2 separate regions of the Homo sapiens genome follow, and region 1 is linked to region 2. Evidence: fine-mapped expression QTL. A gene starts in region 2. The other region holds a variant in brackets. All regions are shown on one strand. Distances are between the middles of the regions. Region 1 holds the start of SLX4 (SLX4 structure-specific endonuclease subunit). Region 2 holds the start of DNASE1 (deoxyribonuclease 1).

Region 1 (15,679 bases), 41 kb after region 2:
TTTGTATGTGCACAGAATTATCTGGAATATTTCAAGAAGCCTCTGATGAGGGAGTTTGGAGGTCAGGGGGCCAGAAGTAGGAGGGAATTTTTGTACCCTTCTGAAGCTCCTGGACAAAAAAAATTAACAATGTACAGGTATTCTTTTCTAAAACAGGTAAACCAGGCAAGAGCAATGGCTCATACCTGTAAACCCAGCACTTTTGGAGGCAGGAGGATCACCAGAGGCTAAGAGTTTAAGATCAGCCTGGGCAAGATAGCAAGACCCCATATCTACAAAAATTTTTAAAAGTCAGTTGGGTGTGGTGGCACACGCTTGTACTCTTGGCTACTCGGGATACTGAGGCAGGAGGATTGTCTGAGCCCAAGAGTTCGAGTCTATGCTCGTGCCACTGCATTCTAGCATGGATGACAGCAAAACCCTGTCTCTAAAAAAAATATAAAATAGGCCGGGCACAGTGGCTCACACCTGTAATCCCAGCACTTTGGGAGGCTGAGGCGGGTGGATCACGAGGTCAGGAGTTCAAGATCAGCCTGGTCAATATGGTGAAACCCCGTCTCTACTAAAAATACAAAAATTAACCAGGTGTGGTGCAGGCGCCTGTAATCCCAGCTACTCCGGAGGCTGAGGCAGGAGAATCGCTTGAACCTGGGGAGCGGAGGTTGCAGTGAGCCGGCATTGCGCCACTGCACTCCAGCCTGGGTGACAGAGTAAGACTCTGTCTCAAAATAAATAATAAACTTTTTAAAAAAAAAAATCAGGCAAACCAAACAAAACACACATACCCTTTAGCCTAGAAATCCTAGATTTAGGACTCCTTCCAAAAGAAATAAAAACACACACATACAGGTTATAAGTACAAAGACATTTATTGCATAATCTATAATGATAAAAACTATAAATATATCTTTATCAACAGGGGAATGTTTGATTAAATATGGAATATAATATGGCTTCCTATCTACTGACTTAGAGAAATGCTCATGATGCAATATGCATAGTATAATTACTTTTTTTTTTTTTTTGAGACAGGGTCTCACTCTGTCACCCAGGCTAAAGTAGAGTGGCATGATCACAGCTCACTGCAGCCTCGAAGTTACAGTGAGCTATGATCAGGCCACGCTGCACTCCAGCCTGGGTGACACACTGAGTACTCTGTCTCTAAATAAATAAATAAAAGGTTTCTTTACTAATTATACGAAGCCTTTTGATCTCTGAAATGCTTGTTACCCAGTCACGTGACTAAATGATGTGATGAATGATGTGACTCAATGAATGTAATGTGGTAAATATGACATGTAAACTTTTTAAAAGAAAAGCCATACACAGGCCTGGCGAGGTGGCTCATGCCTGTAATCCCAGCGCTTTGGGAAGCCGATGCGGGTGGATCACTTGAGGTCAGGAGTTCAACACCAGCCTGGCCAACATGGTGAAACCTCATCTCTACTAAAAATACAAAAATTGGCCAGGCGTGATGGCGCATGCCCGTAGTCCCAGCTACTCAGGAGGCTGAGGCAAGAGAATCACTTGAACCCCGGAGGCGGGGGTTGCAGTGAGGCGAGATTATGCCACTGCACTCCAGCCTAGGTGACAGAGCAAGACTCTGTCTCAAAAAAAAAAAAAAAAGAAAAGCCATACATATGAATTTTCGTTATATTTATAACCAATCTGCTGACTCGATGAAATATTTAGTAGAGCTGTAAATGGAAATTAGAATTTTTAAAAATACTGAGGGCCAGGCGTGGTGGCTCACACCTATAATCCCAGCACTTTGGGAGGCCAAGGCAGGAGAACCACTTGAGCCCAGGAATTTGAGATCATCCTGGGCAACATAGCAAGACCTGTGTCTACAAAAAAAATTTTTTTTTTAATTACCTACAGGCGGCCAGGCACAGTGGCTCATGCCTGTAATCCCAGCACTTTGGGAGGCCGAGGTGGGCAGATCACAAGGTCCGCAGATAGAGACCATCCTGGCTAACACGGTGAAACCCTGTCTCTACTAAAAATACAAAAATGGAGCTAGGCGTGGTGGCGGGAGCCTGTAGCCCCAGCTACTCGGGAGGCTGAGGCAGGAGAATGGCATGCAACTGGGAGGCAGAGCTTGCAGTAAGCTGAGATCACACCACTGCACTTCGGCCTGGGCGACAGAGCGAGACTCTGTCTCCAAAAAAAAATAAAAAATAAAAGAAAGAAAGAAAATTACCCACAGGCCAGGCATTGTGGCTCATGCCTGTAATCCCAGCACTTTGGGAGGCCAAGGTGGGCAGATCACTTGAGCGCAGGAGTTTGAGATCAGCCTGGGCAACATGGCAAAACCCTTTCTCTACTAAAAATACAAAAAATTAGCCAGGTGTGGTTTTACATGCCTGCAGTCCCAGCTACTAGGGAGGCTGAGGCAGGAGGATCACTTGAGCCTGGGATGTGGAGGTTGCAGTGAGCTGAGATTGCCCCACTGCACTCCATTCTGGATGATAGAGTGTAACCCCGTCTCAAAAAAAAAAAAATTACCCAGGGGCCCTTCTAGCTCTAGCTACAGGTAGGCTGAGTCAGGAAGATAAGGAAGTTGGGAAGATCAGAAAGATCACTTGATCCCTGGCAGTCTGAGGCTGCCATGAGTCATGATTGTGCCACTGTACTCGAGCCTGGGCAACAGAAATGAGACCTTGTCACTAAAAAAAAATTACAAAACGGAAATAAGCAAATGTTCAGTGTAACATGTATTCCATTCTATACTACATTTTGTTCATTCATGCACTGAAGGGCATTTAGACTGAATATGAGGTGTACACGTTTTTGTTTGAGCATTTCTTCTTTTTGACGGAGTTTCATTCTTGTTGCCCAGGCTGGAGTGCAATGGCACCATCTCAGCTCACCATAAACTCTGCCTCCCAGGTTCAAGTGATTCTCCTGCCTCAGCCTCCCGAGTAGTTGGGATTCAGGCACCCACCACCAAGCCCGGCTAATTTTTATAGTTTTAGTAGAGACGGGGTTTCACCATATTGGCCAAGCTGGTCTCAAACTCCTGACCAGAGGTAATCCGCCCGCCTTGGCCTCCCAAAGTGCTGGGATTACGGGCGTGAGCCACCGCGCCTGGCCCTTAAACACTTTTTCAATTTTTTGGGACATATCCTTAGAAGCGGAATTGCTGAATCATATGATGATTTTATCTTTAACTTGTTCAGGAACCTCAAACTGTTTCCCACAGCAGCTGTACCATTTTACATTCCCTCCAGCAATGTATCAGAGTTCTAACTTCCTTACATCCTCACCAATACTTTTTTTTTTTTTTTTTTAGGAAATGGCTGTCCTACTGGCCATGAAGTGGTATCTCACTGCAGTTTCAATTTGCACTTCTCTAACGATTCATGATGCTGATCATCTTTTCATGTGCTTGTTGGCACCTGCCACTCTTTGGAATGTCTATTCAAGTCCTATGTCCATTTTTTTTTTTTTTTTTTGGTCTTGGCTTCTTCACAGGACAAGTTCTACCATGCCCATTTTCTGAGTTGTCTTTTCATTGAGTTGTAAAAGTTCTTTCTATATTGTGCTACTAGAATGTCTTAGTCCATTTGGGCTGCTCTTACAAAATACCACAGACTGGGTAGCTAATAAACAACAGAAATTCTCACTGTTCTGGAGGCTGGGAAGTCCAAGATCAAGGTGTTGGCAGACTCTGTCTGGTGAAGGCCCACTTCCTCTAATGGCAGAAAGGGTAGGGGGTTTCTCTCTTGGGCCTCTTTTCTTTTTTTAAAAAAATTTTTGTAAAAATGGAGTCTCACCTTGCTGCCCAGGCTGGTCTCAAACTCCTGGGCCCAAGCAATCCTCCCGCCTCCGCCTTCCAAAGTGCTGGGATTACCGGCATGAGCCACCACACATGGCCACAAGGGCCTCCATCCTTATCCTTATGCACTAATCCCATCACCTTGCGGTTGAGGCCTTCACATATGAATTGGGTGGGGGGAGACATAAACATTTAGACAGCAGCATAGATTCTTATCAGGTATATGATTAACAAATATCTCCCATTCTGTGGGTTGTCTTCTCATTTTCTTGATAGTATACTTTTACACAAAAAAGTTTTTAATTTTGATTAAATCCAATTCATTATTTTTTGTTGTTTCTGCTTTTAGTGTCATATCTAGAGTCTACTGCCAACTCCAAGGTCATAAAGATTTACCCTTGTAGTATTCTTTTTTTTTTTTTTTTTTTTTTTTTTTGAGATGGAGTTTCGCTCTTGTTGACTAGGCTGGAGCGTAGTGGTGCGATCTCGGCTCACCGCAACCTCCATCTCCCGGGTTCAAGCGATTCTCCTGCCTCAGCCTCCCGAGTAGCTGGGATTACGGGCGCACACCACCACGCCCTGCTAATTTTGTATTTTTAGTACAGACGGGGTTTCTCCACGTTGGTCAGGCTGGTCTCAAACTCCTGACCTCTGGTGATGCCAAAAGTGCTGGGATTACAGGGGTGAGCCACCACGCCCAGCCTACCCTTGTATTCTTCTAAGAGTTTTATAGTTTTCACTCTTCCATTGGGTCTTTGATCCATTCTGAGTTAATATTTGTACATGATATGAGGTAAGGGTCTAACTTCATTCTTTTGCATGTGATATCCTGTTATCCCAGCTCCATTTGTGGAAGACACTACTCTTTCACCATTGACTAGTCTTGGCATCCCGGACAAAATCAATTGCTCATAAATATAAGGGTTTATTTCTAGACTCTCAATTCTCTTCCACTGACCCATATGTCTATCCTTATGCTGGTACAGTACCACACAGTCTTGATTACTATAGCTTGTAATAAGTTTTGATATAAGGAAGTACGTTCTTGAAAAAGAACAAAGTGGCTATTTGGGTTTTGGGTATTAAGAGCCCCTTGCAATTACATATGAATTTATTTATTTATTTATTTAATTTATTTATTTGAGACACAGTCTCACTGTATCACCCAGGCTGGAGTGCAGTGTTGTGATCTTGGATCACTGCAACCTCCATCTCCTGGGTTCAAGGGATTCTCCCGCCTCAGCCTTCCAAGTAGCTGGGATTACAGGTACCTGCCACCACATCCGGCTAATTTTTATATTTTTAGTAGACATGGGGTTTCACCATGTTGGTCAGGCTGGTCTCGAACTCCTGACCTCAAGTGATCTGCCTGACTCAGACTCCCAAAATGCCGGGATTACAGGCGTGAGCCACCGCACCCGGCCAATTCCATATGAATTTTAACATCGGTTTTTCCACTTCTGCAAAAAAATTAAAACGTTGTTGGGATTTTGATAGGGATTATGCTGGTAGATGCTTTGGGGGGAGTTTTGCTGTCTGAAACCTCCCTTAAATTTGTCTAGCAGAACATATAGAGCAAAATCACACAAAGGCAGCAGTGGCAGGCAGCACACTGAAAGAAATGCAGTGTAACTCATCTCGAATAACTTTTGTATACTTATACACGTAAAAACAGTTATTTCCTGTCCTGATTTCACCAATTTTAGCAGTCTAGAAAATGTGACTATACAACAGTAAATAAAAGTTAACATGATCAAAGAACTCAGGAGACAATTCTTTCCTTGTTCAATCTGCTGTCTCCCCAACCCCTGTCAAGATAAAGGAGAGGGAGGTGGACAGGTTATGGCTTTACCATTTATAATCAAACCACAGACCTGGGATAAGGGCCCTTCAATTCATCCTCCCAACTGTTTAAAACATGAACTCAGTGGAAGATGCCAGAAGCTTTCAAAAAGGAAATATTCCAGGAGGGTAAGGACGTGATCATCACAGCATCTTCAACCTTTGCCTTTTTGCCCTGAACCCAAAAATTACCGACTCCTATGAACTGGGAAAACAGCACATCTATTTGGAATAACACAGTTTTTTCATGTACTTCTGCATCCATTTTCTCTTTCAGATAAACCCTGTAAGGTTTACCAAACACAAGGACTGTCTGCACCTTTTAGTATCTGACATCTTCTTTCATCTCCCTGGTTGTTCTGACAGTGCAGTGGGTTTCCGCCTCAAATGCTGACAGGGAACACACAATACTGTTCCTACTGAAATAACATCCATCTAGTAACACTGTTTCTGAACACTGCCCCTCAACTTAGTCATACTGGGTGACTTCTAACTAACAGCATGAACCCCAGGGCTTCTGCTGGAGTAACAGTCACAATAGGGTCCAGGACAAGGTGGCTGCCATTGTTCACCTTTAGCCCAAAGAAGCAGGTGCCCCAGTTATGGATGGCTTTGTTCATTGAAGGGAGGAATTATGTATAATTGGAAATCCCATGCACCACCCTGACCCAGCTCTTGCCATCTCTCTTATACTTAGCCTACAGTGTTTGTTCAGTTGGTGCTGGTTAAATGCAGTGCTTCTCAATCTTGAGACCATCAGAATCATCTGTGAAACTTTCAAAAGACACAGGTTGAAAGATTTATTCAGTAGGCCTAAGAGTAGTGTCCCAGCCTTTCCAATTAAAAAAAAAAAATTCCACAGGTGATTCAGTTGAGAATCTCAGGTTTAAGAAAACTCTCTTTTCTAAACCACACTTCAACTAATTTATTTTATGTAAATAAATAATATAGCCAGATTTGGGGTTGGGGGAGAGAGGTAGCAAAGACTTTCTTCACCAGGACTCTAAGAGATTTAAATCCTAAATAGGAAACAGGCACTTCATTTTCAGTCTGACTGGAAAACAGTAATTTCTACCATTACAATTATCCTTCATAACCCAGCCATGTCCATGTTTATTAGATGTTTAAAAAAATTTTCTGTATCCTATGATATTTTGAAATCTTAATAAATCTTGCTGGCAGGGAGACTGCCTCTCCCAGGTCTAATTCCTCAAGACAGTAAACAACTTACTTGGGAGCATGCCTCTCACAGGCAAGTCAGCCTCCCCCCTTTATCTAACTCTCACACACCAAGCCAGTATTTCTCCTGCCCTAAATCATCCATGGCCAGGTACCAAGCAACTAGAGACCACCCAAAGGCAAAGCGTGATGGAATTATTTAAATTATCCAATCCTAAAATGTTTACTCCGCCCTGACTTGCTATTTCTGAGGAACCCCATAAAGGTTCTGGCCTAGACTTTCTCCTTGTTCCTATTTCTTCCTCCTAACCAAAAGCTGATGTCTCCCTTGTGGCTCTGAACGTGGTGGCACGCCTCCTTTTCTTGAGAAATGTAAGTAAATTATTTCAGGCCAGGCGCGGTGGCTCACACCAGTAATCCCAGCCCTTTGGGAGGTCCAGGCAGGAAGATCGCCCGCCTGATGTCAGGAGTTTGAGACCAGCCTGGCCAACATGGTGAAACCCCGTCTCTACTAGAAATACAAAAAATTACGCCGGGCGCGGTGGCTCACACCTGTAATCCCAGCACTCTGGGAGGCCAAGGCGGGCAGATCACGAGGTCAGGAAATCGAGACCATCCTGGCTAATATGGTGAAACCCCGTCTCTACTAAAAATACAAAAAATTAGCCAGGTGTGGTGGCGGGCGCCTGTAGTCCCAGGTATTCGGGAGACTGCGGCAGGAGAATGGCGTGAACCCGGGAAGCAGAGCTTGCAGTGAGCCGAGATCACACCACTGCATTCCAGCCTGGGCAACAGAGCGAGATTTTGTCCAAAAAAAAAAAAAAAAAAAAAAATTAGCCAGGCGCGGTTGCGGGCGCCTGTAATCCCAGCTACTCCGGAGGCTGAGGCAGGAGAATCGCTTGAACCAGGGAAGTGGAGGTTGCACACACCACTGCGCTCCAGCCTGGGCAACAAGAGCCAAACTCCGTCGAAAACGAAGCAAGGAAGGGAAGGAAGGAAAGAGAAATTATTTCAACAGCACTGGCCTCTCCATGTCGTCACTCAGTCTCCTCTATAAATTCAAGTCCCAAGACACCCTGCCCTACCCTTGCCTCTGGGCTGCTTATCATTCTTGTTCTGTCTTCTTTATCCAGTTGGAAACCATATTACAAACTAACTTAGATTTCCAAGCCAGAGAGCAAGTAAACACCTCCTAAATCCTTCATCAAGGAAAACCTCTTGGAAGGTTTTGAAGCTCAACATTCAGAATCAAATGTAGTCTTACCCAGTAATTCCACTCCTAGAACACAAAAACTTGTGTTATGAACACGAATGTTCATAGCAGCATTATTTCTAACAGCCAAAAAGTAAAAACATCCATATGCCCATCACCTGATACATGGATAAACAAAACATGGTCCATCCAAACACGTGATTATGCAGCCATGAAAAGGCATGCAGTACTGATTCATCTACATGGATGAAATCTTGAAAACATGCTTAATAAAAGCCCAGCAGAAAAAGCCAAGTATCACATGATCCCATTTACATAAAATGTACTGAATACGCAAAACCACAGAGACAGAAAGCCGATAAGTGATTGCCAGGGGATGGGGTCGGGGGAATTGCGGAGTGACTACGAATGGGTACGGCAGGTTCGATTTGGGGTTTTAAAACGTTCTGGAATTAGCGACGATGGCTGCAAATCCTGTGAACGTACTGGAAACCACTGAATGTACACTTCTAGTGTGCATTTTATGATACTGTATCTTTTAAAAAACATATTGTCTGCCCTGCAAACTGATTCCTTTACACCTCTCCTGTGTTCATTATTTCAGTGACTGGAGGCACACTACTCTCAGATGTTAAGGCCAGAAACCGGCAAATCGTTAACAACTGCGTCTTGACTATGCTCCATATTTCTCCATTCTTTTCGCTCCACCTCCTAATTCGGGCCGCTCTCACTTTTCATCTAGATTATGTAATAGCCTCCTAATGGGTGTCCTTGCCTCATCTGTTCTCACTGTAATTAGGCCTTTAAAAACAAAATCTTACGCCGGGCGTGGTGGCTCACGCCTGTAATCTCAGCGCTTTGGGAGGCCGAGGCGGGAGGATCTCTTGCGGCCAGGGCTCGAGACCAGCCTGGGCAACATAGTGAGACTCCCCCCCCCGCCCCCACCGCCCGTCTCTACTTAAAAAAAAAAAAAAAAAAAGCCGTGAGCGGTGGCTCACGCCTGTAATCCCACCACTTTGGGAGGCCGAGGCGGGCGGATCACCTGAGGTCAGGAGTTGGAGACCAGCCTGGGCAACAGAGTGAAACCTAGTCTCTACTAAAAACACAAAAATTAGCTGGGCGTGGTGACTGGCGCCTGTAATCCCAGCTACTTGGGAAGGTGAGGCACAAGAACCGCTCGAACCCGGGAGACAGAGGTTGCAGTGAGCCGAGATCGCGCCACTGCACCCCAGCCTGGGCAACAAGAGCAAAACCCCGTCTCAAAAAACAAACAACAAAAAACCTTCAATGGCTCCCGACGACCCCAAGTTGAAGCTCAAACCCTTAATACGATGTGTAAAGTCCCTCAAATACCAAGCCATGGCAAACCTCTGCTACCTTTCCCCCAGGCCCTGGCTGGCTTCACCCTAGCCCTGCGGAAGAGCTCGGGCATCCCCTCCAGGCACCTGAAGCGCGGCAGAATCCCCTCTTCACGTAGCTAACCCT[C/T]CCCGACCTCCAGGCCTCGACTCTCACGCCACCCCACCTGAGAGGAAGCTTCTCGGGCCCCCAGGCCAGATTTGGTGCCTCTCCCGGTCCCCCTCACACCGTCCACTCTCCGCTCCACAGGCAGGTATGCCCAGAGGGGGCCGCCGTTGTATCCGCGAACATTTCCTGAGCCAGCTGGGGAGGAACCAGACTTTATCTCACAGCTGCCACAGTGCCTTAAACTCGCCCTAACTCTTTCTCAAAAACTAACAGACTCCACCTGAAGCAAGCGCCGCTTCCGCCTCGCCCCGCCTCCTGCCGACCGGAAGCGCTGGCCGCCGCGGGCCCGCGCCCGGCGCCGCAGAGGAAGACCGGAAGCGAGGCTGCCGCACCACCGCGCGCGCCCGCTCTGCGCCTGCGCGCAGGCAATGCTCCGCGGGGGCGCGGGCGGCGCATGCGCAGGCGCGCGAGTCTCCGTTAAGAAGGTGCCGCGGCGGCGCCGGAGGTAGGAGGAGCCGGGCTGTGGGGCTGGGAGTCGGCACCCGGGAGGCGGAGGTCCTGTCATTTCGGGCCGTTCTCTCTTTCCTAAGGGAGAAGAGCCTTTCTCGCCCGTCTCCCTCGCTGGCTCCGTGGCCTCGGCAGGCCCGCAGCCCCGACGGAGAGGCAGGAGCCGCACTCGGGTGGAGAGGGGCCGGGGCCCGCCTGGAGGGAGGAGGGTGGCGGATCCGGATCCCCACGGTGGTCTCCGTCCGGGCCAGTCCGGGGATCGGGGTTCTCCGTCTGACTTTAGAGCCGTTAGAGTCTTTGGCAGCCCTTTTCCCAGACGGGGAACCCCTCAGCCCCTTTCCGTAGGTCGCCGGGTTGGGGGAAGCGGGAGGGTCCGCCCCTTACCGATCCATTCATTCATCCCTCGCCTGCTGTGAGCCGTGGGCTGCGGTAGGTACGAAGCAAGGAGGCACAAGTCCCCTTCCCTCTGGAAACCTGCAGGCTTGCAGGATCCGTTATGTCATTCAGTAAATCTTGACTGGGCACCTATAGGAGGAGATAGACTGTTGTGAGGTTCATATCAACAGAGATGCGGAGATCAACACAGTTGTGGAGGTGGAATTTGTTCCAGCCGCTCCCCGCATCCAACAGGATAAAATTCACTTTGCCTAGCCTGACCTTCCAGGCCCTTGTGAGCCAATCCTTTCCTCTCCCCGCAGCGTTTTCTCCTACACCTTTCTCTCTACTCCCATTATACCGAACTCTTTGCAATTCATGAATTCAACAAGTAGTTGTGGAGCACTTATTTCAAGTCAGGCACCAGATCAGCCAAAGAGGTTGCAAAGTAATAGATGGATCTCTACCCTCCTGAAGTGTTGAGCTTAATGGGGGACAGATAATAAGCCGATGAATAAAAACACAAGAGCGGATAGTTTCGAACCACACTTCCTGGGTTTGATCCCAGCCCTGCCACTGTGAAAGCTGTTCCTGAACTGGCTTTAGGCCAGTTCCTCATTCTGCTTGCGCGTGTTTCCTTGCCGTAAAGACAGGATGACAAGAGATTCCACCATATAGGCTTCTTGTAAGGATTAAACGAGTTTGACTTGGAAAGCAATTGGAACAGTGCTTGGCACACAGTAAGCATTCGATAGATATTACCTGTTTCATATGATGATAACCTATGACAGATGCCATTGTGAAAACAGTGGGCGATGATAGGGATTAACGGGGATGGAGACGGTCCATAAAGGATTAGAGGACACTTCTCTAAGGGGAAGACACAGAAGAGAATGCGCCAGCCATACAAAGTAGATTCTAGGTAGGAGTATTTTCAGCTCTGGAAAACAAAATGATTAATTAGATTCCTTGGACAGTGGAGATTGCATTATTGTATTTGAAAGGAATAACTTTCTGCCATTGGGTCATTCAGTTTTGATTTTTGAACCCCACTTAGCTGTGTGCCAAAGTAAACAACCATGCTCACGAGGCCCAGCCTTTGCACACAGGCGACATTCCAGTCATCCAGGTTTGGAGAGCCTTGCTGGGTTGAGAAGATAAGTAAAAGTGACCTTTTCTCTCCTGAGTGTTCATGAGAATATAATGTCTCTTTCTGTCTCTTATGTTGCAGTATTTACAGAAAGAGCCTCTTTAACAGCCAGGGGTCTTAGATCAGTGTAGGAGATAGTTTTCCTAGATTTGGGGATCATCCTGTTTCTGTGGTGACTGCCTTTTATGGGGTTTGCTCCCTAAATTTCAGTTAAGAAAACACTCTCCCAAGATGCACATATTTTAATACCTGTGGAAGAACAACATGCTTTGACAGGTTTCTAGGTCCTTTTGTTGTGATGTCTGATAGGACGGTTAGACCATGTTAACCAGGCTGGACTGAGTATTTGACAGTATTGTTACTCCGAAGACTTTTCCCTCACCCCACATGCCCTTGTCCCTCCCTGGAAGAACTGGCATAAAATGACAATGTCTGATTACACTTACATGCTTTTGGTTTTCCACAGATGTGTAATTAAGTGAACCATATATGTTTCATCATCATGGAGATCTTGGAGAATTATCTGAGCACCAGGTTCATATGTATTCGATCTCAGAGGCATCTATTGGACAACAAAACACTCTTTCAGTTGTGAACTTTATTTATTTATTATTATTATTTTTTGAGACAGAGTTTTGCTCTTGTTGCCCAGGTTAGAGTGCAGTGGCACGATCTCGGCTCACTGCAATCTCCGCCTCCCAGGTTCAAGCGATTCTCTTGCCTCTGCCTCCCGAGTAGCTGGGATTACAGGCATCTGCTACCACGCCTGGCCAATTTTTTGTATTTTCAGTTGAAACGAGGTTTCACCATATTGGCCAGGCTGGTCTCGAACTTCTGACCTCAGGTGATCCACCCCCCGCCTCGTCCTCCAAAAGAGCTGGGATTACAAGTGTGAGCCACCGCGCCCGGCCCAGTTGTGGACTTTAACAGAGGGAAGCTTTAAACATGTTTAACCACAGGCCCAATTTGAACAAAGATACTTCAATCATTATAGAGAGGAAAACAGTACTTTTTGTTCAATTGTGCAAACTCTCCAAGTATCTAATGGAGAAGTAGAGAAGAACCCTAATGAAACTGAGTGTGAATGAGGCTCAGCTAGGCTTCTACTTGGGTTCACTTTCTCATCTGTCTGCCTGTCCTGGGATTGACCCTCGCTCCTCTGAAGACCAGCCTGAAAGCCTTAAAACTGGTCAGATGATGGATGAGTCTGATGAGGACTTTAAAGAACTCTGCGCTAGCTTTTTCCAAAGGGTGAAAAAACATGGAATCAAGGAAGTGTCAGGAGAAAGGAAGACACAAAAGGCTGCCTCAAACGGCACTCAGATAAGAAGCAAATTGAAAAGGACCAAACAAACTGCTACCAAGACCAAAACCCTTCAAGGCCCTGCAGAGAAGAAACCTCCGTCTGGCAGCCAGGCCCCTAGGACTAAAAAGCAAAGGGTAACCAAATGGCAAGCAAGTGAACCGGCCCACTCTGTGAATGGGGAGGGGGGTGTGCTTGCCTCTGCTCCAGATCCACCTGTGCTCCGGGAAACAGCACAAAACACCCAGACGGGTAACCAGCAAGAACCATCGCCAAACCTTTCCAGAGAGAAAACCAGAGGTAATTTGTACTCTTTTAAACCAGGGGCTGGAAAACTTCCTGGAAAGGGCCAGATCGTAAATATTTTGGCTTTGTAGGCCACACAGACTCTGTCACAACTACTCAACTCTGCTGTCATAGTGAGAAAGCAGGCGTGGACAATATGTAAATGAACAGGCATGGCCATATGCCAGTAAAACTTTATTTACAAAAACAGGCAGCCAGCCACATGACCGTAGTTTGCTAACTTTTGGTTTGTTTTTATTTTTTAATTTTTAAGCTTAAAAAAAAATTTAGAGCTGGAGGTCTCACTATGTTGCCCAGGCTGGTCTTGAACTCCTGGACTCAAGCAATCCTCGTGCCTCAGCCTCTCAGAGTGCTGGGATTACAGGCGTAAGCCACTGCGCCCGGCTGACTCCTGGTTTAAACAACAGTCAAGAAAAACATAACCCGTGTGAATTTTTCACATGATTGTGTTTGGAGTCCTCTGCTCTTTCAGAATTTCCTATGAAATTCTGTTATATGATTGACATGAGTTACACAAACAACACAATAATGCTGCTTCTCTTGTTTTCTTGAATTTATTCCAAAGTGGGTAAGTTGGACTGGGCCAGCCAATTTGGATAGGCTGCTGAGAGGGCCGCATGAGGACTCTGTGTGGGCTCAAGTCCCAGGAGAATCTTCAGGTTCTTTCTTTCTCTCTCTGAAGACCTTTTAATCTTTTCCTTTGTTATTGTTATTGATTTATTTACTTACTTAGTTTTTAGAGACAGGATCTTGGTCTCTCACCCAGGCTGGAGTGCAGTGGTGCTATCATAGCTTACTGCAGCCTTGACCTCCCAGGTTCAAGCAGTCCTCCCTGCCTCAGCCTCCCGAGTAGCTGGGACCACAGGCACCCACCACCGTGCCTGGATAATTTTTTAACTGTTTAAAGCAGTTTTCTTGCCCTGCTGCCCTTGGTATACTGAGCTATATGCTTACTACACATTCTTCATGCAAAACTGAAAACTACCCTTGCATATATAATACACCATGGGCTCTCTGAGCTCCTGAGTTCTGTTTCTAAATTTCCTTTGCCCTCACTTCCTGATCTTAATAACCTCTCAGTAGAGTGGTGGTAGAGTCTCAGGTCGCATAGACTACTGGAAGGCATCAGCAGTGTTGCCTCACCAACTTTACTGGTCTCTCGTGCTCTTTGCCAGTCGGATGAAATCTATGCATGGTTCCCCCAAAACACGTATCCATGCGCGTATCTGCAAAACTGGCACACAACTTCATGGGGTTCATGGATCCCCACTGAAGATCATCCGTGGATCCCAAGTTAAAGAAGAACTGATCTAGGACATAAACCTTTGTCATTAATATTTCTTTAATAATAGCTTTATTGGGGTATAATTGATATTCCATAAAATTCACCATTTAAAAGGGTATGGTTCAGTGGTTTTTAGTATATTCACAGACTTGTCCAACCACCACCACTACCTAACGTTAGAACAGTTTTATCATCCTAAAAATAAACCCCATGCTCATTAGCAGTCACATCCCATTCCCCTCCTGTTATTGATATTTATGTCTATATTGCCATAAACAAAGAGGTTACCAACAAGCAACCAGTCCTCTTCACATTTGTGAGTCAAACCTAAACTAGTTGATAAAGGACTCTTGAAACTTGCGTCTAACCTGTATCTGGTAGAAAAGTCTTTTATTTCTCCAGCTACAACAGATGGTTGTGAATATTTTCCTCCTTGCCAGAGAATGTGCCCAACAGCGACTCCCAGCCTCCTCCTTCCTGTTTGACAACAGCAGTGCCAAGTCCCTCCAAACCCCGCACAGCACAATTGGTCCTACAGCGAATGCAGCAGTTCAAGAGAGCAGACCCCGAGCGTTTGAGACACGCTTCAGAAGAGTGCTCCCTCGAGGCTGCGCGGGAAGAAAATGTCCCAAAGGATCCTCAAGAGGAGATGATGGCGGGGAATGGTATGATGAGTGTGTTTCTGTCTTCCACACAGAGATAAGTTAATACAACTCTGAGGAAGGGAGGCGGGAAGGAATCAGCATTTGTTGAGTTTCTTCTGTGGATAGGCTCTCTGCTTGATGTTTTACCTTTGCCACTTCACTGGATCCAGCCAGAGAATGAAGAGTCTCTGGGATCATTTCCCACCTAGCTTCCTTGATAAGGTACCGTTTTGTTTTTTTTTCTGAGACAGAGCCTTGCTCTGTCACCCAGGCTGGAGTGCAGTGACATGATCTCAGCTCACTGCAACCTCCGCCTCCCAGGTTCAAGCAATTATCTTGCCCCAGCCAGTGGGATTACAGACGTGTGCCACCACACCTGGCCAATTTTTGTATTTTTAGTAGAGACAGGGTTTCGCCAAGTTGGCCAGGCTGGTCTCGAACTCCTGACCTCAAGTGATCTGCCTACCTCAGCTCCCCAAAGTGCTGGGATTACAGGCGTGAACCATTGCACCTGGCCCTCTTCCTTTTTTTTTTTTTTTTTTTTTTTTGAGATGGAGTCTCGCTCCGTCACCCAGGCTGGAGTGCAGTGGCACGATATTAGCTCACTGCAAGCTCCACCTCCCAGGTTCA
Region 2 (15,679 bases):
ACCGTGCTGGAGATGGGGGCTGCCCGCCACTTCCTGCGCATGCAGCAGCTGGCCAAGACCCAGGAGGAGCGCGCACAGCTCCTGCAGCCCACGCTGGAGATCAACCCCAGGTGAGGCCACGCTCCTGGCTCTTCCAGCCTGTGGGATTCCCCAGAATCCTGTGTGTGGTGTTCTTTTGTTGTGGAATGTGACACAGAAGAAAAGTGCGTGAGGCCTGTGGACATGTGGGTAACTATAAGGAGCTGTATGCAGTTTAGGCTGCACCCATGTGAAATGGAACCTGGCCAGCCCCTTACCATCCCCAGGTGTCACCTGGGAGGTTAGCCACATCCCAGCCTGTGACCATGTCCTCGTTTTGCTTTATGGCTTTGCCACCTGTGCGTGTCCTGGACATGCTCAGTTTTGCCTGTTTTGAGCTTTGTACGTGGATCTTGGTGTTTGCTGAAGTCTCACGTTGCTCACTTGGCATGAGGGTTGCCCATGCAGAGGGGCTGCCACAAGTTCATTTTCATAGCCGAATAATGTCCGCTGCAGAAACCCACCTCGGCACAGCAGACTGCTCCGTTCTGCTCTGCTGGGCCTCCGGTGGTTCTTGGTCAGAAGTTGTGGAGAGCCAGGCTGCTCTGAGTATTCTTGTCCACGTGTCTGGGGCTTGTGTGGGTTTCTCTGTGGCCCCGGTGGTGGGAGCTGCTTCCAGGGTGCACCGAGAACCCCCCAGCCCTGACAGTGGCTGAGCCGTAAGATTTCCCTCGTTTCTTCCTGTTGTTCTTTATATGCCCTTTATCTGTTGTAAATGTCTTTTCACCTGCCTTTAGGTATCTTTTGAGTTTCTTTCTTTTTACAGTATCACTTCTTTGCACCCATGAATGTGATCTATTTAGGTCTTTAACATCCTTTGGTACCTTACATTCTCTGTAGGGTTCTGGTACCATTTTTAAAGAATTATTCTTTGATGTGTCTTATGGGGTATTTTAAAATTTCATTTTCTAACTTGTATATGAACTAACTTGTATATGAAGTTTCTTTTTTGGGGGAAATTTTGAATGTAGCAATTTTTTAAAAAATGAAGTTACATAAACATGTTACCAAAAATAGAAAACAGCAAAAAGGAAATCAAAATCCATAGACTTACCACCCCCCCCACAATGTAGCCTAAGTAGTATTTTAATTTTTGAGACAGGGTCTCACTCTGTCCCCCAGGTTGGAGTGCAGTGGGGCAATCTCAGCTCACTGCAACTTCTACCTCCTGGCCTCAAACAATCCACCTGCCTTAGCCTCCCGAAGTGCTGGGATTACAAGTGTGGGCTACCACCCCCAGCCAGTTTTTGTTTTGTTCTTTAGTACATGTCTAGTTTTTTTCTTTTGTCATTTTACAACCATAACTTTTAAAATTATACTGGAGGCGAGGGAGATGCATCTTCCTAGCCATGGCACTCCTGGGGAAAGGCTGACTTGGCTTATGGCTGTCAGTGCACAGCAGCGCCAGTATGCAGAATGCCTGTGCCTCTGCTGGAGCAGCTCAGTGAGGCGGACACCAGGTCACTTTAACTAGTTTTGGTGGCAAACTAGTTTTGTGAGATAGCTGCAGAAGTGCTCGTTTCTGTCTGTTGCCACTTCACTTTTGGAGACAGGGTCTTGCTCTGTCACCTAGGCTGGAGTGTACCAGTGGCGCCATCAGAGCTCACTGCAGCCTTGGCCTCCCAAAGTGGTGGGATTACAGGCGAGAGCCACTGTGCCCAGCCAGCTTCACTTTCATTTGTTTTAAAATTTGGTGTTCTGTCCACATAGTTCAGAATTCAAAACTGCTTACAGGGGAAAATTTCCTCCTACCTGTGTCCCCAGTGCAGCCAGCATTAGGGCTTTTGTATTTCTGCAGAGATTATGTGCATTTGTGGGCAGCTGCGCCCGTGGGCTTCCAAGGGGGAACTTGCTGTGCAGTGGGTCCTTGCCTTGCTTTTCTCCCTTAGGGTAACTAGGTGACCTCCACATTAGCATATTAAGAATGTCCTTTTTTTCCAGCTACGTAGACTAGAAATGTGAGGATGTGCATTTGAAGTGTTTCCTCTGTTAGGTTGGGTGCGGTGCCTCACGCCTGTAATCCCAACATTTTGGGAGGCCTAGGCGGGTGGATCACTTGAGGTCAGGAGTTCGAGACCTCATCTCTACTAAAAATACAAAAACTAGCTGGGGGTGGTGGTGGGTGCCTGTAATCCCAGTTACTTGGGAGGCTGAGGCAAGAGAACCTCTTGAAACCAGGAGGCTGCGGTGAGCCAAGATCATGCCATTTCACTCTAGCTTGGGTGAAGGAGTGAGAGTCTATCTATCTATCTATCTATCTATCTATCTAAAAAAAAAAGTGTTTAAAGGGATGCAGTTAGGAAATGGAATGGCTGAGTCTCAGCATATCATCCACATGTGGTTTTCCCGACTCCAGTTGTCCTCTGGAGAGGTTGTACAAATTTACAGTTCCCCAGAGCCCTCGGTTTTATCAGACTTCTAAGTGAAAAATTATAATATTCATGTTAAGGTTAAATACTACATGATGCTTTTTCCTATGCAGAAAAAAATATTGTTCTGACGTCAAATATGTCAATCATTCTTTACTTTTTGGTTTGTGGTTTTGCTTGGAAAGGCTTTCCCCTTCTGAGATGATGAAACATTTCTTCCCTAGAATTGTGCTTGTCATCTTTGATCCCTCTGGAATTTACTCTGGTCTAAATGGTTTTCTGCATGGCTCCCAGTCATCCCAGTGCTGCTGGATGGAGTGATCTGTCTCCTCCCTCTTCTGTGAAATACTGTCCTCATCAGACACTCAGTGTCCACCCTCGTTACATGGAGTTGTTTGCCTTCCCCCTTTCCAGACCTAAACTGTTTTATTTACTAGAGCCCTATAATATGTTTCAACATGTGGGTCTTACTCCCTTCTCTTTTATTATTTATCTAGGAACCAAGGCATGTCTTCACGTACTAAGCTCCTTTTGTCCCTTTAGTGTATATTAATCTTGGAGTTTGGCTACCTTACAGCATTTTCTAATACTGACACTCCTGATTCTCTTGGGTTTTCTGGGTATATAATGATATTATCTATAAATGATCATTAACATACCTTATTTAAAAAACTACAGACAGTCTTACTGTGCTTCTTTAAATATCCTGATAATCCCAAAACATGAAGGGAGGGTCACAGCACGTGGTACTGAGCTGCTTTTTCTGGTGGGTTCTGTGTTGCAGGCACGCGCTCATCAAGAAGCTGAATCAGCTGCGCGCAAGCGAGCCTGGCCTGGCTCAGCTGCTGGTGGATCAGGTGAGTGCAGCAGCTTAGGATGACTGCAGGGACCCAGGCTACCAGCCCTGCCAGCCTGCCTTCAGGGTGGAACAGCGGTTTCCTCTAAAATCCTGTCTTTTTGTTTGTTTGTTTGTTTTTTGAGATGGAGTGTTGCTCTGTTGCCAGGCTGGAGTGCAGTGGCGCGATCTTGGCTCACTACAACCTCTGCCTCCCGGGTTCAAGCAATTCCCCTGCCTCAGCCTCCCGAGTAGCTGGGACTACAGGCATGCGCCTGGCTAATTTTGTATTTTAGTAGAGATGGGGTTTTCACCATCTTGGCCAGGATGGTCTCAATCTCCTGACCTCGTGAGCCACCGTGCCCAGCCAAATTCTGTTTTAAAAACGGAAAAATGGCCAGGCGTGGTGGCTCACGCCTGTAATCCCAGCACTTTGGGAGGCGGGGGGATCACCTGAGGTTGCAGTGAGCCGAGATCGTGCCTCTGCACTCCAGCCTCGGCAACAGTGAGACTCTGTCTCAAAAAAAAAAAAATGAAAAGGTGCCCCATGCCCCTCATAATGGGTTTCTCCTCTTGCCTTTCAGATATACGAGAACGCCATGATTGCTGCTGGACTTGTTGACGACCCTAGGGCCATGGTGGGCCGCTTGAATGAGCTGCTTGTCAAGGCCCTGGAGCGACACTGACAGCCAGGGGGCCAGAAGGACTGACACCACAGATGACAGCCCCACCTCCTTGAGCTTTATTTACCTAAATTTAAAGGTATTTCTTAACCCGAGTGTGTGTTGGGCTTTTTTTCTGGGTCCTGTGGCAGGATGGGTCCTCTCTTCCTGCAGTTCAACTGGTGTGGGGAGGGGCTGCTCACTTCAGCATCACCTCCACTGGATAGTGGTCACTGATGGCTTGGGCCTGCAGGCAAGTGGGCACAGGGTCTGGGCTGAGCCTACCTGAGCTCCTGTGTCCCATCCTCATGTGGCTGTGCAAGGGAGGACACATACCAGTTGGTCACTCAGGCCATAGGCAGCCTGGAAGTTAAAGGGAAGAGCCGAGTCGGGAACAACGGCGCCTCGGAGCAGCATCCCTGCAACCACGATCCTGATGGGTGTTGGGAAGAGAAAGTAGGTTCCCCTTTCACACATGGGCCTGGCTCAGCACCCGCAGGAACTAAACTAAGAGCCCTGGGACCTGCCAGTGCAGGTCTGTGGGTGCCCAAAACTGCACACCCTGGTCTGTGCCCCTCAATGTGGAAACCACATGACAGCCTAGGTGTCTGCCTCTCCTCTTATCCCCAGATGTGCTTTTCCGAAAAAACCTAAAAATCGTGGCTCTTGTTATTCTGTTCCCTGTAGTGGATCAACTGAAGCTCAGTTGGGTGAGTGTTCAAAGGCTTTGAGGCTTCTGAAGCCCGACCTATGAGTCACGGCTGCCCTTGGAGGTGCCCTCAGTCTGCCCTAAGCGCGAGGCCCTGCTCACCTGTCATAGGCACAGTGCGTGGGTGTAGCTGTGGTGTCAGCGCTGTCGGGGATCAGCCACTGGAAGGTGGGGCTTGTCCACAGGCGGATGGATGACCACTGGGAGGGTCTCACATAGCTGCAGCCCGCATTGAAGTCGCCCATCAACATGACGTCCTACCAGGAAACGCTGCCTGTGGCCCTGGGACATGCGGAGGCCGCTGGTGCCCACTGCCCCTGGGAGGGCCTCACCTCCAAGCCCCATTTCTCTTGGACATCCAGGTAGACGTCATAGAGAGCGTCGATCTCGGCTACTGCGTCCCCCGGGGCCGCATGCAGGGGAACAATGGCAAACTCCCTGACCTCTGTGGAGACAGCCACGTCGTGTGAGGCACACTCCCTGGGGGCAGGTTCAGTCACCATGTCAGCTGGAACTATGTATCATGACAGTCCCCCCGGGGGGTGGATATTTTCCAAATGACTTGAATGGAAAACCCAAGCCCCAGGGACTGGGAGGGCAGTGTGTGACACAGGCATTCCAGGTTCCCTAGGAGGGGGTGGAGGCCATAAGCGCCAAGCCGAGCCCCACCCTGGCCCAGGCAGCACCCACCTGTGAACCGGGAGAAGAACCTGACAATGGCTGGCTCTCGGTTGAAGGTGTCGTTCCCGCAGGGCTCGCAGCCATCATCGTAGTAGTAGCTGTCCACCGCAGACACCTGGTCAGGCCTGCGGGAAGGCCGGGCAGGAGGAGGTGACCCCAGGCTGGAAGCTGCCCCACTCCTGCTTCCCAGGAGGCAGGCGTCGCGTCCCAGGCGACAGGAGGGCGGGGGAGCCAGGCACCTGCTCAACCCATTGGTCCGGGACCCAGGCGACAGGAGGGCGGGGGAGCCAGGCACCTGCTCAACCCATTGGTCCGGGACCCAGGCGACAGGAGGGCGGGGGAGCCAGGCACCTGCTCAACCCATTGGTCCGGGACCCAGGCGACAGGAGGGCGGGGGAGCCAGGCACCTGCTCAACCCATTGGTCCGGGACCTTGGGGTGTTTTCACTCCACCCTGGACCCTGCTCTGAAGCCTCAGGTTCTTGCCATAGGACAAACTAATAGGACAAACTACTTCCCTGCTCTGTTGGGGCCCTCCCAGGTGAGGGAGGGGCTTCCTGGCTTTCTAGACCACCCACCTGTACACGAACAGGTAGCGCTCCTTATAGCTGTTCCGTCCCAGTGGCTCACTGACCACGTAGTGATAGGTGTCTGGTGCATCCCTGGATTGAAGAAACAAAAGGTCCCAGTGGCGGGGGCCATAGGGGACCCCTCTGGCTGCCGATAGCGAGGCTGTGCCCAGGTCCCCACCCTTGGGGCCCAAGTGAAGTGAGGCTGTGCCGTGGACGAGATGTCACCTTCCTATGACCCTGCCACTGTCACCCACTGATTGAGGTTGTCCAGCAGCTTCCCCACGGCAGTCAGGTGGCTGTCTCTGACCTCCTGGACCAGGGCGATGTCATAGCGGCTCAGGATCTGGGGGCAGGGCCACAGTGGTGCTGAGCAGGGCTGGTGCCACCCAGGGACCCTACAGCGCCACAAAGGGAGCCACAGCTGATGCTCGTGGCATTGCTCGGTTTAACCGCAGCCTCATGTTTCTGCCTGGGCTCCTGCTGCCAGCCAGGGACAGCACAGCAGGGATGAGGACCTTGGTCCACAGCCAAGAGCCTGTTCCACCGTGCTGGGAGCAGTGGTGCTCAGTACCCCACACCCGACACCCTGTGGCTCCATAGGGCTGGCCCTGCCCACCAGCCCTAGACTCCAGAGCTCCTCTGCTTTTGGGGGGAGGCTGCCCTGGCCTCACCTGCACAATGTAGCTGACGAGGGTGGCATTGGACATCTTGGTCTCCCCAAATGTCTGGATGTTGAAGGCTGCGATCTTCAGGGACACGGCCCCCTGCAGTAGGGCCGCCAGTGCCAGCAGCGCCCCCAGCAGCTTCATGCCCCTCATCCTGGGAGAGCACAGGGCACAGAGACATAACAGAAGTGAGACGTCATCCCTGCCACAGCACTCCAGCCTTCTGGAGCCCAGCTGGCAGGGGCTGGTGGAGCTCAAGGTCAGGGGGACGCAGGCGGGGGAAACCCTTTCCTACAACGTCCAGAAAGCCAAACAGCTGGCACCACGTAGAGGACCCCGAGTCACTCCTCCATCCACCAGAAAACCCGCCCGGGAGGGACGCTGGAGCCTCCGCCTCACTCGCTGCTGGAGGATGAGACTCTAAGCCTCCCTCCCTGCTCCAAACCGGCCAGTCACCCAGAGGCACTCCACCTGGTGCTCACCTGAGATGATGGTGATGTCCTCAGAGATGACGAGAATGCTGTCAAGAATCTGGAATATCCTTTGATGACAATTTTCTCCTTTTGCTGCTTAAAGAAAAAAAAGTAGTCTATGAAGAAAGGTCTCTGAAGAAGCACTTCAAGGCCCTGGCAGTGCTGCTGGGCTCCGGATCCTGCACAGGCAGTGCGTGTCTGGGAGTTTTAAAAGTTCAGGCAGCTGTGACCTTCCCTGGGGCAAATGTGAGCCGTCACCTGAGAGTGCAGAAAACAATGGCTCTGTGTGGCTTTCCGCATAGGTGGGTTGCTAGCACGTGTTTCTTTCTGTAAGCACAGGTTTCTTGCTGCTGTAAAAACTGCACCTGATAATCACGTTTGCACTTAGTTTTAAAATGTCTGATAACAAGGCCAAAGGTTCCTATCCCGTGTCCCTTGCACGTGTGGTGGCCCCCATCTTCCAGGATAGGGCAGGGATGGGCCAGGTATGTGCGGGAGGGTGGGGCTGGGCTCCAGTCTCCCTGTCTCTTGTCTGGGGGCCCCAAGGTCACTTTGGACAAAGAGGCCAAAGCCACATCCAAAGTTGCAAATGGAGCCCCCTGGTGGCTGACAGCCATGACTGCTCTGTGGCCCAGGACACGCCTGCCTTCCTGATTCATCGCCATCAGGTGCAGGCAACTCTGCAGGAGGCTGGGGAGCTCGGAACAAGCAGTGGTGGGGGCCTGCAGCACCAGCGCCGTGGGGCCAGGACAGGTGGGGCCTGCAAAGCCCACCCCAATTGCCAGCCAAGCAGTGGGGAGCCTTCTTGAGGTAGACAATAGGCTGTGTGTTTAGGCCCAGGGGATCCCGAGTGACCAGGTCACAAGGGCAGGGCAGCAGCTAAAGGCCAGGCCTCAGGTCCAGTAATTTCTTGGTTCTTTTGTTTTGGGTTTTTATTGTTTTTGAGACAGGGTCTCACACTGTGTTGCCAAGGCTGGAGTGCAGTGGCACAATCATGGCTCATTATAGCCTCAACCGCCAGGGCTCAGATAATCCTCCCTCCTCAGCCTCCTGAGTAGCTAAGACTATGGGTACGGCACCATGCCTGGCTAATTTTTAAATTTTTTTGGTAGAGATGGGGTCTTGCTCTTTTGTCCAGACTGGTCTTGAACTCCTGGCTTCAGGCAATCCTCCGGCGTAGCCAGGACCACAGGTGCATGCTACCATGCTCAGTTTTTTTTTTTTTTTTTTTTTTTTTTTTTTTTTTTGAGGCGGAATCTTGCTCTGCTGCCCAGCCTGGAGTGCAGTAATACTATCTCGGCTCACTGCAACCTCTGCTTCCTGGGTTCAAGCAATTCTTCTGCCTCAGCCTCCCGAGTAGCTGGGATTACAGGCACGCACCACCACACCCGGCTAATTTTTGTATTTTTAGTAGAGACAGGGTTTCACCATGTTGGTCACACTGGTCTCAAACTCGTGACCTTGTGATCCGCCTGCCTCGGCCTCCCAAAGTGCTGGGATTACAGGCGTGAGCCATCGCACCCAGCCTATTTTTTAAGTTTCTCACAGACACAAGGTCTCCAAGTCCTGAGCCCAAGCAATCTTCCCGCAAATGCTGGGATTACAAGTGTGAGCCACCGCACCCCGCCACTCATTTCTTGGAATCTTTGACTTTCCATTCGTATTCATTTCCTGAGACTGGTGAAACTACCACAAGTTTGGTTGCTTAAAATAACAGAAATGGATCCTCTCAAAATTCCGGAGACTGGACGTCTGAAGTCAGGGAGTCAGTAGGACCTTGCGCCTCCTGGAGGCTCCGGGCGGTTGGGGGATGCTCCTTGCCCTCCAGTTTCTGCAGGCTGCCAGCAATCCTTGGCTTTCCTTAGTTGTGGCTGCATCACCCCAGTCTCTGCCTCTTCTTCTTAAGATCTGTGCACCTGCATTTGGGGTCCTCCCAGAGAGCAGGGAGGATGTCCTTATCTCAACAGCCTTTACTCACATCTGCAAGTCCTTTTTTGCTACAAAAATCAACATTCAGAGGTTCCAGGGCTAGGGCACAGCTATCTTTTGAGCCACCCCTGGGTCTTGCCCACTTGGAAGGGGCTGTGCTGGCCCTCCAAGGACAGCCCTGCACGTAGCATCTGTGGTCCCCCTGGGGGAGGAGGGCCTGGAAGGCTTGGCAGAAGTCCAGGCGGGATTCAGGTATGAGAACTGCAGGAAATGAATACAAATGGGGTCTGCAGGAGGCCTCAACGGCAAGAGTCAGCAGGGGCCAAGGTCGAAAGTCAGGAAAGTGCTCGGTCTGGCCAGCTGGCCATGAAGCAGAAGGCAGGCCCAGTGGGGACTAGAAACAGGAAGGTAAACCACCCTCCACAAGACTGGCACCCCATTCCATAAAGACACGCCAACAGACGCCTCTGGCTGGCAGCACTGGTGCACTCATCTGTCCCTCCTATTGAGACGGCGTCTACCAGATGGAAACACCACCACTCCTCAGGCTGCCAGAGGCCCCATTGCAGGCTTTTCCAAAGGTTTCAGCAATGGTTCTTCCCTGTTTTTAATCTCTAAGTCTAGGACAGCCTCCAGCACGTCAAAACCCAGCCCCCAAGCAAGGCCACCGGAGTATTCGGTGTAGGGACTAGTCCTCTGCCTTTGGTGTTTGCCTTTCCTGGACACACATCTGACAGCGACCCATCACGGGGAAGGGAGTAAAGCTAGAGGGCGGCCACTGTCCTCCACCAAGAAACTGCCTGGTGCAGCTTCCGGCGGGGCACAGGGACACCAATTATAGCTCACAGAGCAAGTGCCCAACCCCCTACGTGTGCTCAGCACGTGGGACGAGGGTTCCCCTCTGGTCTGTCATCCCCTCCTGGCTCTTGACCAAATGCTGCCCCATCTGCTTTCAGGAACTCCCAGGCATAGTGCCCCTGCTTCCTCTACCTGCCAGAAGGAAGGCTGGAACTTGGGCCTCGCTTGTACAAATGGCGAGTGCTGCCTGCTGTGTGGCTGCCCTCAGGACGGGCTTTGGTGAGGGCAGCACAGCCCTGGAGGAGCCTGGTCTGACATGGGGCCCGTCTGGGATCACTGTTGGGCCTTCAACCGTCTGGAGCCTCTATGTCTTCCTCTGATAGATTCCCAGAACAATCATTTCACCTTCTAAGAAGCCATCCTGCCCCTGCAGCCTGTGGCTTGTGGAGTCTCCAGCACTCTCACTTCTCCCTCGTGGATCTCTTTTCTGTCTGTGTCAGTCAATGCTGCCATGTAACAGCCACCTGCAAACTCAGTGTATACACATGCATTTCTCTCACACTGCCAGGTCTGCTGGGGTGGCTCTGCTGCCTGGGCCTCGTCCTGGGGCTGGGCTGGAGAGACTGCAGCTCCCTGGGCACCCTCTTCCCACAGTGTGGAAGGTGGAGGCTCCCAGGGCACAAGCAGAACACGTGCCGCCCTAAGGCCAAGGCGGAGCTGGCTGCTGTCGCTTCTGCCCACATTCCATGGGTGCTGTCGAGCTGTAGGTCCAAGCCCCACATCAGGGGAGTGAGTGGGGTACAATCCTCCCATGCTGGGCCCCACTCTGGAGATAGGCCTGGGGAATGCCCAAGAAGGAAGCCCAGCCCTTCTGGGATTTTCACATCCACAGAGAATGGGTGCTGGCAGCCAACGGCAACGAGGAGAAAAGCTGACCGCCTTCTCAGATCAGGATGAGGTGTTTTTACACCAACCCCGAGGATCTGCAGCCTTCTCAGGTTAAATTAAACCTGTCACAGACACAGGAAGGGAAAAGAGCACATAACAACAATTATATTGACATCTAAGCCAGGTCACATGCTCTGATTTGGCTGAAATTACAGGATAAAGGAAAAATCCTATAGGCACCATGGCTGGAAACAAATGGCCTCAAAGGAACGCTGGTGGCCGTGGCTTTGTGCAACGACAGCCAGTGTTGTGTGACCCAGCGACGTGCAGGCCAGGGAGGGTACCCTTCTACTGATCAAGAGGGAAAGCGGGAAGGACGCACAGCTGTGGTTTCCAACCTGCACGGAGGCACCCCCATGAACTCACAGAGCACCATCAGATCCTTCTGAATTTTGAAGGAAGCAATGATACTCTGCTCTGCTCAAGGCCATTCATGGTCTCAACATTAACGTTACCTTGCTTTATAGGGTATCTTCCCTCTCTCTGCCAGGCTGGGTTGTGGCAGTCACTGAACAAGCAATTACTGTGAAGGTCGACGTGGAAAAATGAGGCAATGAGGGTGGCGGTGTTCTACCAGATTCCAAGTTGAAGAGGTGCTCGACAGGCACACACATCCCATGACTAAACAAATAACATGAACATTTCTCTTTATGTATTACTTTTCTAGACATCCACTATAAGTTGCCAGGACACAAATGCTTATTATTGGGGTTTACTTATTTAATAAATGGAACTGTGGGGGATTTCTTTTTCTTTTCTTTTTTTTTTTTTTTTTGAATGACCATATAATCTGGACTTACTAACTTTAGGTAACAGTAAGTTAAAAGATAGAATAAGGTTTCATATTACAGGAATTCAAAAATTGACCATATAATAAATGATGAAGAAAACTAACAATAAACAGGACAATGTTCAAATAGCTCATTGGGGCCAAAAGATCAGCGTATATCCTGCATCATCTTTCATGCAATGTCTCAGCTTTTTTTCCCTCAAACATAAAGGCAGATTAATACAAATTAGCCTTATTTAGAATATTCATTTACGTTTCCTTCTGAAATTGATACTTGAGTGGAAGATGTATTAATAACTCGTGGTTTCTACTGAAATTTAAGATTCCACCAGATGATGCTCAGATTTAGACGATGCTAGAGTAAGACACTACTGGGTGATGATTTCAAAGTATGAGCTGCAGGTAAAATCTAAAAGGACATACATAATAACAAATGTTTTCTAATTTAAAAGACATATAGTAAATATCCATGAATTAACTCACACAACCTACTTACAAACAAAACTAGAATAAACAAAACTTGTAGGAACCAACTCCAGTTGATTTCGCCACTTAGCGGGAGCAAGTTCTCAGGCGGGTCATTTTATTTAAGGATGACTTGAAATTTTACAAGACCACCTTAGCTCCCACATACGAAAACTCTTTAAGAATTTTTTTTTTATCAACTAGAAGTTGGGGAAAACACACCGAGAAATAAAATGATACAGCTCCTCACACATTTGAAGGCCCATGTCATGCCTAAATTTCTACCGATTTAACTTAAGAAGCTCCTCGCCCTGAGAGATTCCTTTATCCCACAACACTTGACTCAGATGGGGCAGAGGGTCCCAGGACACTACCCAGGCCACAAGATAAAAACACAACCTGTCTCCTCCGGCACCACTATCAGGGATTTCTTTTGGCTTACTATTAAAATAATTATTGAACCTTAATCAAGAGTGCTCTCAACTGAGAAAGTGTGAAGCTTCTGATCTGACATAATGCATATGCCTGAGTTAGATTTCCTACTTTACTGAATATAACTTCTTTTCTATCCTTCATCATTCACCACTGCTTCAACGTTCTGTCACAAAGAAATTCTCAGTTCTACAAATTGCTACTGAAAAGAATAATTGCAACAGATTAAACATATCACTGTGTTTCAATACATAAGTTCATGTTGACATAAAATAATTATCAGCCACCTTAGGGGGATGCTAGGAACTCAACTTGTTCTTCTGCAAAAAGGCAAATAAAGTCAAAGGATCAAGGCGGTATTCTGCCTTTCCTATGCAAAAAGGACTGCCCAGTAACCCATAGCTCGAGAAGGCTCTCTTTAGATAGGTGGACTCCAGCTAATACACGAGGAAGGAATGCTAGACCTGAAAGTCACCATTTTGCCGTCCCTAATCTCAGCCCTGATGTAGTGGCTGCTAACATCACAAAAGACAGCCTCTGTCCCTTCTAATCCAAGACCACACACAGCAGCACTTAGGAGAGTTCTTGCCAAAACAATCTTGAATCTGATCAAACCTCTAGATCTAAATGACAACTTAAAGCAAATACAAGGACAGAGGCTCACGTTCAACAGCACCATGGGGACACGGTACGACCCAGACTGGGAAATCGTAGATGGCAAAGGACAGGCTCATCAATAGATTTCAAAATGAAAAGAAGAAGAGAGGCAGAACTCATAGGTTAAAAAAAGTTCACATTTTGAGATGGATGTTAAATGATAATAAAACTTGAGATATATCCATAAACAAAATGTATGGACCTTAGATCCTATAAAACATCCAATCTTTTATTCATGCAAACAGACATTTGTGTAACAAATTATGTAAGAGGCAATCAGGGAAAGCAGAACACTGACCCATAACTGGGAAGTATTAATAGTAAACTCTTAAGTTTGTAATGGCTCTTATTGGTCCTTATGTTTTGTTTTTAAAGAAATTATTTTAGGAACAGGGTCTCACTACGTTGTCTAGGCTGGAGTGCAGTGGCTTTTCTTTCTAGGCTGGAGTGCAGTGGCGCGATCTTGGCTCTGCACTGCAGCCTGCCTCTGGGGTTCACGCGAGCTTCGCCTCTGGGGTTCACACCATTCTCTGCAAGCTTCACCTCTGGGGTTCATGCCATTCTCCTGCCTCAGCCTCCTGAGTAGCTGGGACTACAGGCGCCCGCCACCACGCCCAGCTAATTTTTTGTATTTTTAGTAGAGACGGGATTTCACCATGTTAGCCAGGATGGTCTCGATCTCCTGACCTTGTGTTCCGCCCATCTCAGCCTCCCAAAGTGCTGGGATTACAGGCGTGAGCCACCGCATCCGGCCACTGCAGTGGCTTTTCACAGGCACAATTGTAGTGCACTGCAGCCTGAGCTGAAGGGATCCTCCTGCCTCAGCCTCCTGCCATGTGCCATCACACCTGGTTTTGTTTTCTTTTGAGACAGGTTCTTGCTCTGTTGCCCATGCTGGAGGACAGTGGTGCCATCATGGCTCACTGCAACCTCCGGCCTCCCAAGTTTGAGCAATTCTCCTCCCTCAGCCTCCCTAGTAGATGGGATTACGGATGTGCGCCACCATGCCTGGCTAAGTTTTGTATTTTCAGTAAAGACGGGGTTTTGCCATGTTGGCCAGGCTGGTCCCAAACTCCTGGCCTCAAGTGATCCGCCCGCCTCAGCCTTCCAAAGTGCTAGGATTACAGGTGTGAGCCACTGCACCCAGCCACACCTGGCTAATTTAAAAAAAAAAATTGTTCTTTTTTGGTAGAGATGGGGTGGGGATCTCACTGTGCTGCCCAGGCTGCTTTCCAACTCCTGGGTTCAAGTGATTCTCCTGCCTTGGCTTCCCAAAGTGCTGGGATTACAGGTGTGAGCTACAACACCTGGCCTTATATTTTACAGTCACATACTATTAATAAAATATTGAAAGATGAAGTGGTACAGTACCTGGGATTTGCTTCAAAATGCCAGCCCTGAGGCTGGGTAATGAGTACACGAAGATGTGTAATACTAGTTTTGAATATGCTGAAATTTTCTGGCTGCGTGTGGTGCCTCATGCCTGTAATCCCAGCACTTTGGCAGGCCACAGTGGGAGGACTGCTAGAGCTTAGAAGTTCAAAACCAGTCTAGGTAACATGGCAAGAACCTGTCTCTACAAAAAATTAAAAAGTTAGCCAGGCATGGAGGCACACATCTGTAGTCCCAGCTACTCAGGAGGCTGAGGTAGGAGGATTGTGTGAGCCTGGAAGGTAAAAGCTGTAATGGGCCATGACTGCACCACTGCACTCCAGCCTGGGTGACAGAGCTACTAGACCTTGTCTCAAAAAGAAAAAAAAAAAAAAAAAAAATCCCATGATTAGTTCTTACAATTCTACAAATCAAAAGCTTTTAAAGCAATACTGCCAGATGTGATCCAACATCCAAAAATAAGGTAACCATTAGTTAATGTTAAAAATGAAACCACACACAAAAAATTAAATGCCCAGGTTTCCATCTTAGAAACACCGTCTGGTCACGCCTGCTTAGGAAACACTCCCCTGCTGTCCTCTGAAGCAGGGGCTTTGTCTCACACTTCAGCTGTGGCTGGGACATCTCCCCTCAGACAGGTCTGATGGGCATCGGGCATCAGGCATCATAAACTTGCTGCAGCCACAATGGCCCCAGATTATTTCCTTGGCCTTCCCTGCTCATGTCTATAGTGCCACCACCATCCAGGTGCTAGAATACCTGAGATCATCCTAGGCCCCGCTCCCCCTCAGCCCCGCCCGCACCATGCACCCTGAGCCTGCACGTCCTCCAGATTCTGCAGCCTCCATACCACCCGTCATCACTGCCTCTCCCTTTGGCTGCCCTGCTTCCAGGTACATGTCCCAGCCGTCCCCACAGCTCTCAGAACATCTCGCAAATGTGTAATTAGATCTCTTTATTCCCCTACTTAAAATCTGTCACCAGTTTCTCATTGTCCCTAACACGAAATCCAATGCTTTCCATGACCTACGTGATTCTAAGCTCTGAGCCTTCCGCTCTGCCTGCAGAGCTGGGGCCTTCTTGTCATTCCAGTTTCAGCTTAAATGTCACCTTTTCAGAGGACATCCTCTCCCCACCCAACCCCTACACCCGCCATGGCCCCAGGTTCATCTCTGCCGGCCCATATGACTCATTTGCTCTGGTGTGTTTACTCAGGCACCTGTTT

The links. PIP is the estimated chance that this variant, and not a neighbour inherited with it, causes the effect.
Region 1: its variant is fine-mapped to the expression of DNASE1 in whole blood (TOPMed, PIP 0.90).

The regions. Positions count from the first base shown.
Region 1 is chr16:3,605,865-3,621,543 of GRCh38, reverse strand. SLX4 (SLX4 structure-specific endonuclease subunit) reads left to right here and starts at 9,938. Exons shown (of 15, transcript NM_032444.4): 1 at 9,938-9,984; 2 at 11,978-13,114; 3 at 14,846-15,070. The coding sequence starts at 12,580. It also overlaps a transcript of DNASE1 not described here. RefSeq lists an enhancer at 9,621-9,690 and a silencer at 9,731-10,080. The variant C/T (reference allele first, on the strand shown) is at 9,501.
Region 2 is chr16:3,646,418-3,662,096 of GRCh38, reverse strand. It overlaps DNASE1 (deoxyribonuclease 1), which reads right to left and starts at 7,406. Exons shown (of 9, transcript NM_005223.4): 1 at 7,053-7,406; 2 at 6,577-6,724; 3 at 6,160-6,248; 4 at 5,912-5,995; 5 at 5,344-5,459; 6 at 4,986-5,098; 7 at 4,756-4,910; 8 at 4,281-4,377; 9 at 4,002-4,191. The coding sequence starts at 6,723. The coding sequence ends at 4,144. It overlaps TRAP1 (TNF receptor associated protein 1), which reads left to right. Exons shown (of 18, transcript NM_016292.3): 16 at 1-110; 17 at 3,232-3,304; 18 at 3,867-4,060. The coding sequence ends at 3,968. LOC124903631 (a long non-coding RNA gene) reads left to right here and starts at 4,330. Exons shown (of 2, transcript XR_007064954.1): 1 at 4,330-4,400; 2 at 4,575-11,461. RefSeq lists enhancers at 6,174-6,701, 6,702-7,229, 15,554-15,679.